Homo sapiens: one gene and its partner. The protein of the gene in region 2 purifies or fractionates together with the protein of the main gene of each other region. This does not show direct contact. Each region holds a gene or a part of one and is shown on either strand. Other genes may lie near its edges.

What was found. The genes of interacting proteins can lie anywhere in the genome.
Region 1: the proteins of RGS9 (region 2) and GNAO1 purify together in Homo sapiens (affinity purification with western blotting, with the first as the bait; one study listed by BioGRID). This does not show direct contact.

What each region holds. Positions count from the first base shown.
Region 1 is NC_000016.10:56,348,489-56,351,988, forward strand, and holds part of GNAO1 (guanine nucleotide-binding protein G(o) subunit alpha), read left to right. Parts: intron 1-2,895; coding exon 2,896-3,049; intron 3,050-3,500. UniProt on the Homo sapiens protein: Guanine nucleotide-binding proteins (G proteins) function as transducers downstream of G protein-coupled receptors (GPCRs) in numerous signaling cascades.
Region 2 is NC_000017.11:65,157,082-65,162,424, forward strand, and holds part of RGS9 (regulator of G-protein signaling 9), read left to right. Parts: intron 1-1,213; coding exon 1,214-1,264; intron 1,265-3,151; coding exon 3,152-3,258; intron 3,259-3,454; coding exon 3,455-3,506; intron 3,507-3,769; coding exon 3,770-3,828; intron 3,829-5,343. UniProt on the Homo sapiens protein: Inhibits signal transduction by increasing the GTPase activity of G protein alpha subunits thereby driving them into their inactive GDP-bound form. Binds to GNAT1. Involved in phototransduction; key element in the recovery phase of visual transduction.

The DNA of each region.
Region 1 (3,500 bases), on a different chromosome or scaffold from region 2:
GCGCTGGCACTGCTTCCTGCTGCTCCTGGGCCTCCACTGCAGCCTGGGGCAGGTGGAGGTCTAGGGGGTTGGCTGTCAGCCATCTATGATCTCTGACTTCTTTCTCTTTTCTCAAATGGTGGTATCTCTTCTTTGAATGTACCCCGGCGTCTGCTTCCTCTGGGGAGCTTGTAAGGATGAGCTGTGCTCTCAGCTCCTTGGCAATGGGTTCCAGGCAGCGTGCCGAGGGAGGGCAGTCAGGCCTGGGGGGCTGGCAGGGGTCTCAGTGCCGGCGCCTCCCCTGCCCTGCAGGATCTCCCCTCCTCACTGCCCTCCCCGAGTCTCCAGGATCAGCCGCCTTTTGGGGCTCCCTCCAAGGCCCTCTCCCCATAAAACCAGGTTTGGTTATGCCTGTCCTCTGCTCCCCAAGTCCTCCCCTGCACTGCCACTCCTGGGACCACAGACTGTGATCATCTTTCTCCAGCTGGACTCTGAGCTCTCGGAGAGCAGGAGCCTGATGTGGTCATTCTTACATCCTCGGGGCAGCCCAGCAGAGAGCCCTGCACACAGATGCCAGGCAGTACTGACTGGAGGAGCGAGTGTGGTGTGAGTCGTGCTCTGTGGCCCTGAGATGTAGGGGCTGTGGCGGGGGCTCAGCCTTAACCAGTGGAACTGTGGAGCCTAAATGAGCCGGACTTGATTTCTCCTCCACACCTAAGCTCAGTGGCCAAGGGGGCACAGTCCCCACTCCCAGCTCAGGTCACTCTAGTGGCTGCTCCTGGCAGTGCCTGGGAAGATGTGCAGTGGAGGAGGGAGCTTGGCTCTGGCTGTGGGTTTCCAGCTCTCTGTTAGGCAGCTGCAGGCCAAGGTGGCTCTGTGGAGTGGGGAGCATGTTCCTGTGGAATCCTTGGGGTCTCAGAGCCTCACCACTCTGGCCTCATAATGTGGCTCAATGAGCTTGAGTGTGGACAGCCCGAGGCCCTGGACACAGGTTCACTGGGCCTCCCAGAAGCCTCCGGCTGCCCTTTTCTGAACAGATCCCAGTGAGGTGGCTCAGGGCAAGCGAGACCTGCTCCTCCCCGGAGGGATCACACAGATGACAGGGAAATGCTCCTGGGGAATCAGAATGAAATTTACTGATTGAGGATAGGAGAGTGATGAGATCATATGAGTTTACTGAATCTGTTTAGCAGAATGAAAGGGCAGTGCCGTGTACTACAGCTCCTGGGGGGTGGGGAATAACGCCATGCCAGCTGTCCAGGTGCCCCTGAGAGGCAGCTGAGAACGCTGCCCTCCGCCGACCAACTTCAGCTAATAGGAACCAGGGGCTGGGGCTGGCCGCCTCTACAGGTCATGGTAGAATGATGTAGGCACGGGGGAGATACTGAAGGGAGGACTGGCCGTAAGACGCACGGAGCCCGCCATGCTGCTGTTAGTATCGATTCCTCGAAAGCCCCACAGCCTGCTGATATGGACTGGAGAGACCCATTGCATAAGTTCTGGATCTGGCCCAGCTGTGTCACCGCGGTGTCCCCTCAGGCCAGATGAGGTTAAGTGACATGGGCAGGGAGAGCGCTGGCACAGTGTGGGCCTCAGTGACTGGTGTGGTCACTTCATCTTCATTGCCCTCCTTCTGCTCAGAGGGGGGCGGTGTGGCAGTGGGACCAGCAATTCCTCAGCACCCACGGTGTGCTCACCCCTGGGGGAGGAGGTCATCTCCCCGTAGATGCCCAGTGGCATCTACACCAGCTGTCTTCTTTTTCTTGTTACTTGTGTCACTCTTCTTATTTCAGAGGTAGAGTTTAGCCTGGTTCACCTCTGGGCTTTAGATCCAGAGAGCTGGGTTTACAGTGAGCAAGTTCCCAGGGCTAGGACAGGGTTCTTGGGGAAAATAAGGGAAACTGTCCCTTCCTCCCACTCCCTGTGCAGAAATGGATTCGTTCACAGAGAAAGATGCCCTCTGTGCTGCTGAGAGACAGACTCTGCCCAAGTGAATGAGCTCAGCGCCCCAAAGCAGAGTTTTTGCCCAGGGCAAGAGGCTGCCCCCGTTCGGCATCTGTGGGGCGCCCATCACGTTCATCCATTTGCTAAACAGGCTCCTGTGTGCAGGGCAGCCCTCCACATCTGCCTTGCTTAGAACATCATGCAGTGTCAGATGCAGCTGAGTAGGACCCAGCCAGAGGAGGTGTGGCCAGTCCCCCAGGTGCTCCTGGAGGTGGCCCTGCCAGGAGCCTCTCCCCTGAGTGGTGGCACCCAGGATGCTGGCAGGACCTGGCATGCCTTCCCCTGAGACCATAGGAAGGGCCCGGAGTCTCTCACCACTCCCAGAGAACATCCCCCTACCCAGGATGGGCCCAGGAGGAGAGGTCTAGGCAGGAAGGGCCAAAGCCCAGCTCTCCGGCTCCGGTCCAGACTCCCCCAACGCCCACACACACAGGCACACACACAGGCACGCACACACACTCAAGCACATGGATGCACACAGGCATGCACACACAGGTGCACACACATAGGCACACATGCACACGAACACACACAGGCACACATAACAGGTGCATGCACACACACACAGGCACATGCACACAGCCACACACACGTGTGCTGGGAGACCCTCACATAGCTGGGAACTCTGCAGTGGGGAGAGCCCGGGTCACCCTGTCCTCAGCCTCCCCAGAGAGCCATGGCTGGTGTCCAGTCCAGTCTCTGCCTCTGGCCCCGACATGACGGGTTCTCCGGAAGCAGGGAATGAGATGTGCTGTGAGGTGTAACTGACTCAGGTTCCATCTGGCAGCCTCTCGGAGGAGCTGCCGAGTAGCCCAGTCCCTCTCTGTCAAGCCTAATTCTCTCCTTCTCTTTCCCTGTCTCTGTGTCTCCCTCCCGCTGTCTGTCCTCTCTCCTCCCTTCCTGCGGCCGCAGAACCGCATGCACGAGTCTCTCATGCTCTTCGACTCCATCTGTAACAACAAGTTCTTCATCGATACCTCCATCATTCTCTTCCTCAACAAGAAAGATCTCTTTGGCGAGAAGATCAAGAAGTCACCTTTGACCATCTGCTTTCCTGAATACACAGGTGGGTGCCAGGCAGTCCTGTGCAGGGGGAAGCCTGCCCCTGACAGGGACCCATGGCTCAGAGAACAGGCTGCTCGGCCAGCACTGCTGGGGCTAGCTGGCGAGCGGGACCCATTGCAGGAGACTGGTGGGGCGCAAAAGAAAAACAGTGCTGTGCCACCAGGTTTGGGCTTCCCAGGACACAGCCCTCAGCGTGGTGGAAATGGCCCCTCCTAAGATATATGTGTTAGGACCAAGTGACTCAGGAGTGGTGGGGAGCAGGGGGCAGGACAGGATCACAGGCTTCCCCCTTCCTCCTGGTCACCCTCTAGAAGAGGTCTCAGGACAGCCTCCTGTAATCTCAGCAGTGGCCTCCCCTCACCCCTGCCCAGAGCCCCACAGCACCTTTGCATGAAACCGAAAAGTGGACACGTGGCCTGTGAACAGGGCCTGGACTGCCTCTTGGCCCCACC
Region 2 (5,343 bases):
ACCGCCTCCGAGGAGGGAAGTATCATTGGCAATTATCCAGACATAAGAACACAGGGAGTGGAGTCTCAATCCTGGCCCTCTTCTTTGATGTGTTATGTGGGCCTGTTTCCATGCAGACAGGCTTCCAGCTTGGCCTTTGGAAAGCAGGCTAAGATTGCTGGAAAATGTGACCATTGGCATCTGCACGATGGTATCTGTGATGCGGTGCTTCGTTCCAGGGCACCTTGTCTATCTTCTGAGATGCTATTACCTTGTGCCTACGAGCTGTACCTTCTGCTTGTGAGGTGAGAGGGCCCAGGCTGAGGGAAGGGGCTCAGAGCTTCTGTGGGGTCGTACGGCAGCTCTGGGCTTGTTGGTGGAACTTGGCTTGCCTTGACCCTTAGATAAATCTGAATCCTTGAGGGGAGCAGGTGGGTGGGACGGGTGTACGGGTGCACATTCTCTCCTGGCCTCTGAGCCCGCCTCTCCTGCTGTTTTTCATGCCATTTTTTCATGTTTTTTTGTGTGTTGTTCCCAAGCCAGCCCCTAAGATTTGCAGGGCCTGGGGCGAGAGTACACATGGAGCCTTCATTCCATCATCTAAAGTTATAAATCAACTAGGATAGGTCCCAACCTCCTACCCTGACAAAAGTACCTTCACAATGTCATGGAAGGCCAGGTTCAAGTTTAGAAGTTTCTGACTCCTCGGAGTTCTGCCTGGGAACTTGGGGAGTTGGAGAGCCGGCCCCAGCCCTCAGCCTGTCCTCTTCTCATCCCTGTCTCTGTTTTACTCCCAGAGTCCCAGCTTGGTCCAGAGCCCTGCAAACAGCTTGCCTCGGGTCTGTTTTGTGTGTGTGTATGTGTGTGTGTGTGTGTTTAGACTTAGCCTATTTACTATCCAGTTAGTGAATAACAGACCATGTACAAGTTATCGTCAGGTAAAAGATCAATACAACAAGAGATGTAAAGATGAAGCGTGTGTGTATGTATGTGTGGGCTGGGGGTGCGTGCGGTGTTAAGTTGCACATCTGCTGGAGTCAGATCATGGATAGCCTTGAATTACAGGCTGCAGAGCTGGGACTGAGCATGATGAGGTGGGGGTTTCTGAAGGTTCTGAGCGAAGAGGAATGAAATCGCAGCTGAACGGGAAGGAGACCAGTCAGGCAACAGCGTGGAGGAGCGGGGATGTGTCAGGAGGCTATGACAATAACCGCAAATGTCTCTTGTTTTTCAGGAAGTGATGTTCTGCAATGGATCGTCCAGCGGCTTTGGATCTCCAGTCTGGGTGAGAGCTCATCTGGCACTCAGTTATCCGGGACAGCTTTGTGTACAGCACCATGGGAGAAACTAAATAGAGACTTAGCCTGTGTTTCTGAGAAATTTACATTTTAATTGGACAGACATGACCTTCGTGTGTAAAAGTACCAGAATCAAAAGCAAAGGCAGGATAATTTGGGGACGAAAGAGTTATTTTGTACAAAATATTTAGAGCATAAATAACAGGGATAAGTGGGGAGGACTCAGTCAAGAAAGTCCTGGAGGGGGTGCTGTGTATAGCTGGTCTTGAAAGAAGTGATGCTTGTGAATTGGTGAAGAGGAGCTCTGAGGGTCTTCCTATAAGGGGACACTAGCAAGAGCAATGGTTTAGAAATGGAATGAGTGGAAAGTGGAGGAGTGACAAGGGAGATTGAGAGTCATGGCTCCAGATGGCTATGGAGGGTGGCAGAGGGGTGGAAGAGCACCTGCAGATCTGGGAGATAGGCAATAGGAAGCCACAGGCAATTTTTGAGCATGGCAATGTGCCTGATAATCATATTTCAGCTAGGGTGCCTCGCAGTGTCAGGCCTCTGAGCCCAAGCTAAGCCATCATATCCCCTGTGGCCTGCACGTATACATCCAGATGGCCTGAAATGAACTGAAGAATCACAAAAGAAGTGATATTTACATGGCCTGTTCCTGACTTAACTGATGACATTCCACCACAAAAGAAGTGAAAATGGCCAGTCCTTGCCTTAACTGAGGGCATTACCTTGTGAAATTCCTTCTCCTGGCTCATCCTGGCTCAAAAAGCTCCCCCACTGAGCACCTTGTGACCCCCCACTCCTGCCCGCCAGAGAACAACCCCCCCTTTTTCCTTTACCTACCCAAATCTTATAAAACAGCCCCACCCCTATCTCCCTTCGCTGACTCTCTTTTCGGACTCAGCCCGCCTGCACCCAGGTGAAATAAACAGCCTTGTTGCTCACACGAAGCCTGTTTGGTGGTCTCTTCACACGGACACGAGTGAAAGGCAGCAATTTAGAAAATGGATTGGAGCAGAAAGAAACTGGAGAGTAGATTTCACACTAGAAAATAGGCTGTTGGTACAATGAGGCATACAACTTTAGGACTTGGTCTTTGATGGAGGGAGCGAGACCTGGAGAGGGAGGGCTGGGGAGGAAGTCTTCCCACACCTTGGAGGCTGAGCTATGGGATGGGGAGATGGGTTGGGTCCTTGGGCTGGGGGGTCCTGCAGGAATGGAGGGATGGAATCCTCCCCAGAGGATGGAAGGATATCTGCTTTCATTGATGCTTTGGAGAAAGAACCAAGGAAGTTTGTCCTTTAATTGATATAATTGATAAACAAGGCTGTGCTTCCGAATAAACTGGAGCAGGGTGGGAATTAAAGTGAAGTGGGAAGGAGAGGAAGGGTCTGGACCCGAGATGCAGGCAGAGGTGAGCTTGGGATAGAAGTTGGCAATAAACATGATGCTCCTTGCTCATTCTTGGAGTGACAAAGTGTCTGTTGGTCCAACAGAGACATTTTCTTCCCAGTCCTGTGACCTTTCCCAGACCCAAAGGGCCTATAGAGGCTTCTCTAGGCCTTCCTTAACCATCACCCGCTGCAGCAGACCACGTGTGGTTTCTGTTAACATCCAGATTTCCTAGTTCCCATCTAGACTTATTGAGTTGTCACTCCTGGGGATAAGACCTGGGAGGTCCTCCTTTTAGCGTGCAACCCAGCTCACGCTTGTCCACAGCCAAGTTCAGCAACCAGTGTCCTCACTGCTCATGAGATGCAGTGCTGTTAGGAAGGGGCACCTGTCCTGGAGTTTGGGGTGCCGTGGGGGCCGGCAATGAGCTCCTGTCTCAGCCCTGCTCTTAACATCCATGTCTGAACTGCTTTTCCCAGAGGCACAGAACTTGGGCAACTTTATTGTCAGGTATGGCTACATTTACCCCCTGCAAGACCCCAAGAATCTCATTCTCAAGCCTGATGGCAGCCTCTACAGATTTCAGGTGAGTCTTGGCCTTGACCCTGGCTGTTCATATGGGGTTGATCTCATTTGAAAAGGTGGGGTTCATAGTTTCACAGATCAAGGACTTCAGAAATGGTGGAGGGGGCCAAGGTGGTTGGATTTCTTTAGTCACAGGGTTGGGGTCCATTGAGTCACAATCCAGTTTTAAAGCGTGGTTTCCCTGGTTTCTTTTGCAGACACCGTATTTCTGGCCCACCCAGCAGTGGCCAGCTGAAGATACCGATTACGGTAAATACTTCAGCCCCAACTATGCCTTTGGTAGTGCTTAACATGCTGCTTATTTACTTGCTGCACTTTGGTGACATTTGTCTTGCTGTCATCATGACCTTTCTGTCAGTCCACATCTGTACTGGGCATGTCCCCAGGGGCAAGGGGCTGGGTGTGCTGAGCGTTCTCTCCCCGACTCTGAGCACAGCAGCCTCAGGCTTAGGGAGGCTGCAGATGGGGTTTTGAAAGATGATGATGGAAAATGTCATTGCTTTCTTTTCCAGCCATCTATCTGGCCAAGCGAAATATCAAAAAGAAAGGGATTTTGGAAGAATATGAAAAGGTATGGAGGTGCTTTTAAGTAGAGGTTGTTATAATTGAGTGGAAGATAGTTTTGAGCTGTACTTTCCTCATTCCCACATCACTACATTCATATGCGCCCACATTCATATGCAATCCATCCAGCCAGCCAGCTAGCCATCCATTTATTAATTAGAAGCAGCTAGCTGAAGTAAATTCTTTCTCATGTCTAACTTCAGTTTCTCTTGCTGTAATTTAAGCCCTTGCCTCAGTGGCTACTGGGCACACAGTGGCTACCCACTTCCTTTTGCCATCCCAAAACAATGTGACATAATAAATATGTACTCTAATGGACAACCCTTGGTTAACAGATTTGAACTTGAATTGTTTTTTTTGTTTTTTTGAGACAAGGTCTTGCTCTGTTGCCTGGGCTGAAGTACAGTGGCATGATCTCAGCTCACTGCAACCTCCACCTTCCAGGTTCAAGCGATTCTCCTGCCTTAGCCTCCCGAGTAGCTGGGATTACAGGCGTGTGCCACCACGCCTGGCTAATTTTTGTATTTTTAATAGAGATGAGGTTTCACCATGTTGGCCAGGCTAGTCTCGAACTTCTGACCTCAAGTGATCTGCCTGCCTCGGCCTCTCAAAGTGCTGGGATTACAGGTGTGAGCCATCGTGCCTGGCCCGAACTTCAATTTATGATGGGAAAACAATAGGACTGTATAGACTTTTGTTTTAGGCTGGGTGAGTCCAGTTTCCCAAAGAACACATGCTAGCCCTCAAAAGGCCAAAATTTCTGGGTGGAGGGTTAAAATCTTGCTGTGTTTTTATTTTTATTTATATATTTATTTATTTATTTATTTATTTATTTGAGACAACGTCTTGCTCAATCACCCAGGCTGGCCTATAGTGGTGCAGTCTCGGCTCACTGCAACTTCTGTCTCCTGGGCTCAAGCCTCAGCCTCCCAAGCAGCTGGGACTACAGGAGCACACCACCATACCCAGCTAATTTTTGTATTTTTTGTAGAGACAGGAGGCCCAGGCTAGTCTCAAACTCCTGGGCTCAAGTGATCCATCCACCTCAGCCTCCCGAAGTGCTGGGATTACAGGCGTGAGCCACCATGCTAGGCCACGTGTTTTTATTCTTACAAACATGTTTTCAGAAAGGCCGGTTTATCTTTGTTTTATCTTAGGGTTTATTTTGTGAATTTGTGATGCTCTGTTGTTGAATAGTGAGTTTCCAGGTTGGGTGTGGTGGCTCACGCCTATAATCCCAGCATTTTGGGAGGCCAAGATGGGAGGATCACTCGAGGCCAGGAGTTCAAGACCAGCCTGGCAACATAGTGAGACCCTATCTCTACAAAAGATTAAAAAATTAGCCAGGTGTGGTGGCATGCACAGGTAGTCCTAGCTACTGAGGCAGGAGAATGGCTTGAGCCCAGGAGTTTGAGGCTGCAGTGAGCTATGATTGTGCCACTGCCTTCCAGCCTGGGCAACACAGTGAGACACTGTCTCAAAAAAAAAATTGATTTTCAAATTATTTTTAATCTCTGATGCT